Linked DNA regions of Homo sapiens: region 1 is linked to region 2. The links come from fine-mapping of genetic effects on plasma protein levels. Region 2 holds a variant in brackets. A gene starts in the other region. All regions are shown on their forward strands.

Region 1 (5,349 bases), not on the chromosome of region 2:
GATGCTCCAGAGCCAGAGCGCGGCGGCAGGGAAGGCGCTCCTCCGGGCCATGCTGCTCAGGACCTCCTCGCTGCCGGGAAAACTCCTCGTGCCGCACCTACGCAACCTGGCGCCGTCAGATACTCTGCTGCGCTGCAGCTCCCTCAGCCAGGGCTGTTCCCGTTTAGACGGCTGGGCGCGTCGCCTCCCGGCCTGGGTGCCAAGGAGCCTGCGAGAGCAGGAGGAGGGGGCAGGCAGGACGCGGGAGGAGGAGGGGGGGACCAGCGGGCGCGAGTCGCGCAAGAAGATGGGGCGCGGGCGGGAGTGGGGGCGGCAGAGACGTAAGACTGGCAAAGCTGGCGAGGCCAGCAGTCAGCGGGGCAAATAGAGCGAGAACAGAAGAGCGGGAAGGGCTGGCGCGAGCGAGGTGCGAGCGAGGAGTGGGGCCCGCGAGGCCTGGGCGGCCGCCACTTGGGGGCGCTGTGGGGCCCCCCCGGGGGCGGGGCCGCGAGGGACCCCCGAGGCTGCATTCACAGTGCGGTGCGCCCAGTGGAGCGCCCGCGAAGTGGGCGTGTAGGGCTGGCGGACCCGGAGAAGGGCACTCAGAGACCCCTGGGACATCACTCGCCACCTCCTCGGGCCAAGGGAGGCTTCGGGGGAGGGAAATGGGGAGAGCAGACAACGCTGGGCTTGACTGAGTGCTGATGATGGTGATGGTGATGGTGATGATGATGATGATGATGATGATGAGGTGATGACTCCTGTTCCTCCTCCGGCGCTCACTGAAGGCGCAAATTGCCCTTCGTCTCCCTTTCAGCCAGTAGGATTCCTCTCTCCGCCAACCCTATGCGCTCCGTTCTGCGATAGGCTGGCACTTTGCGCGCTCCCAAGCAGTTAAAACTCGAGGCTCGACTGTCCGATGGTGCCGATGGCAGGCGCTGGCCTTGGCTCGAGGCGCAGGGCGTCCAGCTGGTACTTGCCCGACACCCAGCATTTGGGGATTCCCGTCTGTCTCCCTGATAACCCGGCAGTGCCCGGAAGAGTGCCCTGGGCCCTGGACGATAGCTGTACCTGACCCTCCGGGGTAGGGCTCCTCTAACATCGTGGATATCTTCACGTTTGCTGATATTTTTTAAAAGTTGCTGAATTCGGCCGGGCGCGATGGCTCACGCCTGTAATCCCTGCACTTTGGGAGGCCAAGGCGGGCGGATCACCTGAGGTCAGGAGTTCGAGACCAGCTTGGCCAGCGTGGTGAAACCCCGTCTCTACTAAAAATGCAAAAATTAGCTGGGCATGGTGGCGGGGGCCTGTAGTCCTAGCTACCCGGGAGGCTGAGGCAGGAGAATCACTTGAACCGGGAGGCGGAGGTTGCATTAAGCCAAGATCGTGGCACTGCACTCCAGCCTGGGCGATAGAGCGAGACTCCGTCTCAAAAAATATATAAATAAATAAATAAAATAATTTTTTAAAAGTTGCCGAATTCACAGGTGCGTGGGGGCAAAACCAAGGCTCTGGCCTCGTCTGTGAGAAGCATGCTTGGCCGGCAGTGGGCTGCAGCATAACCTATCCACCTGGCCCAGCAGAAAGAACTGATTTTTGCCTCCTGCCTAATTCCTCGGATGCACAAAGAAAACGGAAGCAAAAGGGTTTTGTTTTGTTTTGTTTTTAATTAAAAAACTTAGCCTTCGGACTCATAAAAGGTTCATTTACTTGTGTTTGTTCTTTAGTACCCGAAGCTGTGACAAATGCCTCAAGGATCAAATGTCTGGGGCTGGGCGTGGTGTTTCAATCAGTCCTTTATAGAGTAGCAGATGCCTCAAGAGGGAAAAACAAACAGAAACAACAGAAGAGATGGTGGACATGTGCAGGCATCAAGTTAAATCAGTGTTAGGTTCTGAGAATATAGATTTCCAATGAGGAAATATTTGCAGCTATACAACCAACCAATAGAAAAAAAAAAAAGGAAAAAAGGAATTAGACAAGAAGTCTATGACTGATTTGAACTTGCAGTGTCTTAATTTTTAAAGTACTTTTATTTTAAGTGCTTACTTAATCCTCACAACTCTTAAGTAGGTACTACTATTATTCTTATTTTACTGACGAGGAAAGAGGGCTCAAAAAGTCCAGTAAGTTGACTGTGGATATCCAGCTGGTAAATGAGAGTAAGGGTTCAAATCCCAGACACTCTGATTTCAAAGCCCATTCTCTTAGTAACTTATACCTCATACTGATAAATAAATCATAATTAAGTCTATTTGCATCCAAAGCTTCACAGTGATTCTTCCTTTACAATAAAAATATTTACCTGTTTCCCAACATTGCATTATTTTTTATTTCTATGAATATTCATGTATATAATGTATGAACATTAGGCTACTTTTAAAACACTTTAATGTTATAATGCCAGTGTCACCCAGGTAAAGATAATAATTTCACAGCACAATAGGCATTTTCTTTAACTCGGAGCGAGTGGTTTTAACATTTTTTTCTAGTTCTGCGCAAACCTCTATGGCTCTTGGTGCAAGGACGCCCTCTACAGGTTTTCCTAATCAAATACTAATTGAGAAATATTCATAAAATTTATTTTTTGGTGCAAGAAAAAGAGGAACTAAATTCTCTCCTAACTCGGTTTCCTCTGAGTGAGGTTCTTCTGCAGCAGTTGAATTTGGTGTTGATAACAATGGTAATCTATCTTGCTATAAGGACGTTTTTTTTCTTCCAGAATGGTTGTTTTCTGTTTACTTCTCTCCAGCACAGGACACTTAGAAAAATTATATTTTATTAGAGATAGATAAAGAGAAATGCTATTTAAAAAATTTTTGATATAAACTCGTTTGGTTATTAAAGGGGACAAAGGAACACATGTTTTGTTATACAACAGTGATTTTTAAGGGTAGCAGCGTGGTTCTTTTTGTAGGGAGGTCTATCTCTAAGAGATGAATCAGGCTTGACTCTCCTTTCTGTTGTTAAGGAGCAGTTATGTAGCTATTTCATTAAGAATTGATTTAAGTTTTTAAATTTCTTTAAACAAACATGTGACAATATTTACTAGCATATGATAAAAATTTGGAAATAATGTGCTAGGCAAGTCAACTTCATTTCGTTTGAAAATTCTGCCATTTATTTTCCAGTTCATTATGCTTCCTTTCCTTGTGCGATTCCCTCTCATCAATTATGTGTGCAGGCAGCTTCATTTATTTGTTCATTAACTCATTTGCTTATTCAACAAAGATTTATTAAACAGCTATTATATGTAAGACACTGACCTGGAAATTATAGTACAAATAAAACATGATCATAGCCTTCAAAGAGCAATAGAGCTACTAAAATAAGTAAGACAAGTACCTAAACAACCATAATACAAGGCAGAATGTGGTGATTGTTGATAAGGCAGAATGACTGGAAATTCATAGAAGAAATCTTGTATCTAGAATTCTGCACATTTGTTTGTTCATTCATTCATTCAAAATATATTTACCCGGTGTCTGATGTTTGCCGTATATAAGCACAGGGGATAGAAAGGTAAGTAAAAAGACAGCCCTGCTGTCAAAGAACTCTCAGTCTAACAAGGGAGTGTGTTGAGAATAAACAATAGAGAGGAATGAACGCCATGGTGGGAAAATGCACAGGGTATTTTGGGACTCAAGGAAAATCCTTCGAGGCAGACTGGGTTCTGGGAAGACTTTCTAGAGTAGAGCATACTTGAGCAGTCTTGAAGGTCAAAGGGGAATTGAGCATGCAAGGGGGAAAGATAAGGAACATCCATGCATAGACAGTGGCAATAGTGAGAGCAAGAGACATGAGAAAGAATGGCACCATGCAGGATCTGCAGGTGCTGACCTGTAGTATGATGAGCCTGGAATGGGAGAGGGAGGGAGCAGCTGGGGATGAAGCCCAAAATGTAGGTAGGACCTGGTTATGGAAGATTGTGCTGAGAACAATTCCAAATAATTTGTTTAGAGACGCTGTCCTCAAAGAGGCGAGGCGTAACTCCCCACTCCTGAAGTGTGGGATGTGCAGAGTGACTTCCTTTTATAGCGTGCAGTGTGGAAAGTGGGGAAAGTAACAAACCTGACAAACACTACTTCAACTAGGTGATCAAGATCATCAACAGTGATGAGTCATGTGATAGTATGTGCCCTTGATATGATGTGATGAGAATGGTACTTTACCTATGTGATCTTGCTCCTGAAAACCCATAACCCCAGTCTAGTCACAAGAAAAATATCAGAAAAACCCAACTGAAGGACATTCTACAAAATTCCTGATCAGTATGCCTCAAAACTGTCAGTGATCAAACAAAAAAGGGAAGTCTGAGAAACTCGTAGCCAAGAGGAACCTAAAGACACATGACTACCAAATGTAATGTGCTATCCTGGACAGCATCCAGGAATAGAAAAAAGACATTAGGTAAAGCTAAGGAAATGTAAGTCAACTACTAATAACACTGTATCAATATTGGCTCATTAATTGTGACAAATGTACCATTCTAATATAGGATGTTAATAACAGGGAAAATTGGGTGTGGGGGTATATGGAAACTCTCTGTACTATCTTTGCCATTTTTGCTGTAAATCTAAAACTGTTCTAAAATATAAAGCTTATTTTAAAAATTAAAGATCAAGACTTGAATATGTTTAAAAAATCTTAGCTGCTGACATTTGAAAAGCAGATTTTTTAATTAAAAATTTGATTTCTGGCTGCTCTTGAAAATGTAGAGATCTGACAATATTCCCTTCTTAGAAAGAATCAGATGGTGTGAGTAGTGACTGCCCTTCAAAGAGGACTAGCGTGCCCAGTCGTTACAGTTGCACTACTCTTCCATCCAGCATGCTTTGCTCTTTTACTTGACCATCTAGGCTTCTGTAGGCTCCTGAGTTTGCCATGCATATCCTGGAGGAGACCCGGAGGGACAGGGAAGAAGAAGGTATCTGAGGGGGCTGAAGCCAGTGCTCATCTTGGAAGTGCAGTTGTGTGGGAACCAGGGCAACACAGCTCTAGAGGTAGGTCTTGTCAGTGTCCAGCCATTCATTCACCCAGGCAAGTTGCCAGAACTATCTTGGTGACTGCAGGCATTGGGACTGAGACTGGTGCATATCAGCTGCACCCTAAGCTGTGTCTTGGAGAAGGAAGGAAAAGATACCCCTGTACTACACTGCTGTGGAGAGGGAGACATGAGATAGTAAATGAAAAGGGCAAGTTGGCGAGGATTATGCTTAAAAAACAAACTCTCTTCTTATACTACCATATATAATAGCTATATATAACTATGGATAGACTATAACTGTCTACCTTTTCTATAACGTCTGAAAGTTTATATAACAAAATATTTCTAGTGGTTACCTATGGGAAGTAGGAACACAGATAGGG
Region 2 (5,387 bases):
TAAAGAAAGGACTCACTGATAACATGGCATTTAAACAAGGATCTAAGGGAAGTGAAAAGGGGTCACCATGCAGAAGTCAGGGAGAAGAAAATTCTAGGAAAAGAGAAAAGCAAGTGCAGACGTCCTGTGGTATTTGCATTCGGGATATATTTCATGAAGAACAAAGAAGCCAGTGTGACTAAAATGAGGTGAGTTTCAAAAAGGCTAGAGAAAATGATATGAGGCTGGGGGAAGAATGGCACAGATATTGTGGGGTTTTTTGTAAGTCTGAATGAAATGGGAAGTTGTTGGAGGATTTTGAACAGAGGAATAACTTGATCAGATTTCTGCTATACTGAGAATAGACTGTAGTTGGAAAGATATTACACTAAGCCAGGCCACAGATGACAATGGCTTGGACTGTACCAGTAGCTGTGGAAATGATGAGAAGTGATCCAATCATAGATATACTGCACCTGTATTTATTTTCTTTCTTTCTTTCTTTCTTTCTTACTTTCTTTTTCTTTCTTTCTTTCTTTCTTTCTTTCTGTCTTTCTTCCTTCCTTCCTTCCTTCCTTCCTTTCTTTCTTTTCTTTTTTTCTTTTTCTTTCTTTCTTTCCTTTCTTTCTTTCTTTTCTTTTCTTTTTCTTTCTTTCTTCTTTTTTTCTTTTATTGAAACAGGGTCTCACTCTGTCACTGAGGCTTCAGTGCAGTGGCACTATCACAGCTCAGCTCATTGCAGCCTTGACCTCCTGGACTCAGGTGATCCTCCCACTTCAGCCTCCCCAAGTAGCTGGGATTACAGGTGCACACCATCATGCCTGAGTAATTTTTGTATTTTTAGTAGAGATGGGGTTTTGCCATGTTGGCCAGGCTGGTCTCAAATTCCTGGCCTCAAGTGATCTGCCCACCTCAACCTCCCAAAGTGTTGGGATTACAGGTGTGAGCCACGGCACCTGGCCACCATTTTAAATTTTAGCCATTCTTATCAGTGAGTAGTGGTATTTCATACTTGTTTTTATTTGCATTTTCCTAATGGCTAATAATGTTAACATCTTTTCATGTTGTATTATCTTGCAATTGCTGCTGTAACTAATTACCACAGACTAAGTGATTTAAAGCAACACAAATTTATTATTTTATGGTTCTGGGGGCGTCAGAAAACTGAAATAGGTTTCACTGGGCTAAAAACAAGGTGTTTGCAGAACACAGCTCTGGAAGCATTGAGGGAGTATTTCTCTTTCTTCAATTTTGATTTTCCTGCTCCTGGAGCCTATGCACATTCTTTGGCATCTTCAAAGTCAGTAGCTTAGCATCTTCAGATCTCTCTCTGACTCAAGCTTCCTCTTCTGCCTGCCTCTTCCATATTAAAGAATGTTTGTGATTACATTGAGTCCACTCAGATCATCCAGGATAATCACTTAATTTTAAGGTGACCTGATTAGCAATCTTAATTCCATTAGCAACCTTAATTCCCCCTTGCCACATAATATTACACATTCACAGATTTAAGGACATATTTGGCAGGGGAGAGGGATACATTAGTCTACTTACCACAGTGTGCTTTGTTCATCTTTTGCATAGTGTCAGTTCAAGTCTGTTGCTCATTTTTAAAAAATGTGTTGCTTGACTTTCTCTTGTTGAGTTTTGGGAGTTCTTTATATATACTAGGTACAAGTCCTTTGTGGGATATTTGAATTGGAAATATTTTCTCCATCATAGCTTTTTTATTCAAAATTGCTTAATGTTATCTTTCACAGAGCAAAAGCTTTTCATTTGGATGAAGACCACGCTATCATTTTTTTTCTTTTACGGCTCATGCTTTTAATGTCATGTCTAAGAACTTCTTGCCTAAGACCAGGACACAAAGATTTTCTCCGTGTTTTCTTGCAGAAATACATTTCACCTTTAGATCAGTGACCTATTTTCAGTTATTTTTTGTATAAGGTGTAAGTTTGATAGGTAGCTTGAATTTTTTTTCGTATAGACGCCCAATTCTTCCAGTACCATTTGTTGAAAAAGACAGCCTTTTCTCTTTTGAATTGTCTTTAAACCTTGTCAAAAATCTATTGCCGTTTCTCTGAGGGTCTGTTTCTGGACTCTATTCTGCTATGTGTCTGTCCCTTCATCAATACTCCATTTTTTTTATTACCGTGGCTTTAAGGTAAATCTTAAAATGTGGTAGTGTGATTTCTCCAACTTTGTTCTTGTTTTCAAATTCATTTTGGCTATTCTATTCTGGGTCTTTGTCTTTCCATATAAATTTTACTATCTGCTTGTCCATATCTACAAAAAGTCTTGCTGGGATTTTTTTGTGTTAATTCTACAGATTGATTTGGAGGGGGTAGGAATTGACATCTTTAGCATGTTAAGTCACTCAATCTATAAGGTATGAGAATTTTATGTCTCTGTTTACTTAGGTCTTATTTTATCTCTTTGATTAGCCTTTATTAGCTTTCAGCATGAAGATCGCATATACTTTATATGATTTACATCTGTTGTATTTTTTGTAACTATTGCAAATGGCATTATATTCTCTTTTTTAAAATTAGAGATGAGGTTTCACTATGTTGCCCAGACTGAAGTGCAGTGGCTATTCACAGATGTAATCATAGCACACTACAGACCCACATTCCTTAGCTCAAGTGATCTACCTGCCTCAGCCTCCCAAGTAGCTGGGACTACAGGAGTTACTGCGCTTGGCTTGGCATTGTATTCTTTATTTCCATGTCCAATTATATATTCCTAGTTCACAGAAACATGATTGATTTTTGTGTGTTAGCCGTGTATTATGTAAACTTGATACACTCACTCAATACCTCTGAGTTTTTTGGTAGATGACTGGGATTTTCTCAATAAACAATCATGTTGTTTACAAGTAAGAGTGGTTTTGCCTCTTTTCAATTTGTAAGCCACTTTTTTTTTTGTAGTCTTATTGTACTGGCTACGCATGCAATACAATAGT[G/A]AATAGGAATGATGACAATGGAGGTCCTTATCTTATTCCTAATCTTAAGAGGAAAGCATTCAGTTTCTCACCATTGAGTATGATGTTAGCTGTAGGTTTTTATAAATGCCCTTTATCAGATTGAGGAAGTTCCCTTCCTTTCCTGGTTTGCTGAGAGTTAATAACATGAAGGGATGATGAATTTTATTAAATTCTCTTTTACCTCAACTGACAAAGTCCTGTGGTTTTTCTTCTTTAGATTGTTATTGTGATGAATTACATTAATTGGTTTTTAAATAACCAACTCTGCATTTCTGGGATAAAGTGTACTTGGTCATGGTGTATTATTCTTTATATAGATTTCTAGTTTGATTCGGCAGTATTTTGTTGAGGCTTTTTATCTGTGTTCATGAGAGATACTGGTCTGTCGTATTCTTTTTTGTATTGTCTTTGTTTGGTGTTAGTATTAGCACAAAATGGCCTCAAACGATGAGTAGAGAAGTAATTGCTTGTCTTCTTTTTTTCTGGAAGAGATTGTATGGAATTGAATATATTTATTCTTTAAATGGCTGCTACCATGCCCCAGTGAAATTTTCTGGATCTGGAGATTTATTTTTCAGTATGTAACCTTATGAACTTATGGAACACCATTATAGTAACTATTTTAATATCCATTCTGTGTTTGGATTGATTGATTTTTCACTTTAATATGTGCTGTTTTTTTTGTTTGTTTGTTTCTTTGCGTGCCTCATTATTTTTTGACTTGATGCCAGACATTACAAATTTTACTTTCTTGGGTACTAGATATTTTTGTATTTCTATAAATATCCTTGAGCTGTGTTCTGGGAGCAGTTAAGTTACTGAAATCAGTTTGAACCTTTGGGGTCTTAAAATGTGGTAGACAGGACCAAAGCCATGTTTGGTCTAGAGCTAATTGTACCCTTTTACTGAGGCGGGACCTTTCTGAGTAGACTACTTAATGTTCCATGACTTACAAAGTTTGTCACTTTGGCTGATGGGATAAGATACTATTCTCAGCCCTGTATGAGCACCGTGTACTCTTCTCTATAATTCTTTTGTGTAGTTCTTTCCCCAGGCCGGGTAATTTCCTCACACTTATGTATTGATTAGTATGCTGCTGGCTACTTTAAGGAAACCCTCTTGGGTGTCCAGAGTTGTCCTTCTGTATAGCTCTCTCCTTTCTGTTACTTTGTCCCAGAAATTCTAACTGTTTTTGTCTCCTTGGACTCTTGGCTTTGTCTACTCAATTCAGGGAATCTACTGAGCTCTACAGGTCTTCATACTTCCAAAGCTGTAGCCTAGGAACTCTATCAAGGCAGTAAGCTGGGGCAATGTTGGGCCTTATCTGATGTGTTTCCTGAGTATACAGAATTGCTGCCCTTTTTTGCCTGATGTCCAATATCTTAAAAACCATGGTTTCATCTGACTTTTTGATTGTTTTAGACAGAATATTAAATCTGGTTCCTGTTAGTTCATCTTTGTCAGAAGCAGAAGTCTTGGTGCTGGGCTTTCAATTCAGCTCTGCAATTACATAGAGCTAGCCAACTTTTGACTCCTTCTACGACAATGCAGTTAAGCACCTGTAATTCTGATTCCTCATCTCCCTACAACCTCCACAGCCATTTGGTTCCTAGAGGTTGAATGTGTTCCAATATTGTCTTATAATTTTCTCCCAAGCGGCTGACACTCATTTTGTGAGTTTGATACTGGCTGTTTTGATGTTAGCACCTGTGTAGGCAACGGTATCTATGTCAGGATTATCGCCTGAGTGAGAGGGAATATAAGATACTACTGATTGTGAGATGTATTCTGATTTCATATATGTTAAAGCATGAAAAGTTGTCCCTCTTGGAATCAATGAAATAGGGTATTTTGACAACAGAACTTTTTAACTGATTACATATAAAGATGAAGTAGAGGATGGCTCCAAGTTTTCTGGCCTAGGCAAATGGAAGGATGAAGTTCTCCAGATGGGAATGAGGAGGGCATCTTGTTTGGCCTGTCCAGTATATATCTTCTATTGTGCAATTACAGATAAACCAGGGAGAAAATTGAAAGCCTCAGATGCTCAACTTCTTATTTTGTTGGATATATTTTAAGAGTAATAAAACCGTCACGAAGATGTAAAACATACCATTTAAACCTCCTCAAGATTGGCAGACTATTTTTATACATAGTCAATTGTATTTTAAAATGACTCTCTCATTTTTAAAAATAAAATAAAATAAAGTGTCAGCTCCATAGGCATAGAGGGAAGAGTCTTTAAAAACATGAACTCATCAACGGATCTAAAAATAAGATAAACTCAGATATCAGAATAGGAAATTCTGTCTTTCAAAATATTATCCTCATCACCTTTCTCTGACACAGCTGTGAATCACGCAGAACATCCACATATGACAAGATTTTAAAATGAATATAAAATATTCTATATAGAAAGTTG

Direction of the effects. Alleles are on the strand shown, and positions count from the first base shown. The strength of an association depends on the size of the effect and on how common the allele is.
For the plasma level of the protein whose gene starts at base 165 in region 1, allele A in region 2 goes with a higher level than allele G (weak association).

Evidence for each region. PIP is the chance, under the fine-mapping model, that this variant and not a neighbour inherited with it causes the effect. The UK Biobank Pharma Proteomics Project read protein levels with antibody pairs (Olink). The fine-mapping took linkage between variants from a reference panel, not from the people measured, so its PIPs are less certain.
Region 1: it holds the start of WIF1, and the variant in region 2 is fine-mapped to the plasma level of the WIF1 protein (UK Biobank, PIP 0.98).

The regions. Positions count from the first base shown.
Region 1 is chr12:65,121,141-65,126,489 of GRCh38, forward strand. WIF1 (Wnt inhibitory factor 1) reads right to left here and starts at 165. Exons shown (of 10, transcript NM_007191.5): 1 at 1-165. The coding sequence starts at 51. RefSeq lists a silencer at 326-485.
Region 2 is chr9:18,626,341-18,631,727 of GRCh38, forward strand. The region is part of intron 5 of ADAMTSL1 (ADAMTS like 1); the gene reads left to right. Among named protein-coding and RNA genes, the nearest start is that of MIR3152, 56 kb to the left of the region's middle. The variant G/A (reference allele first, on the strand shown) is at 2,945.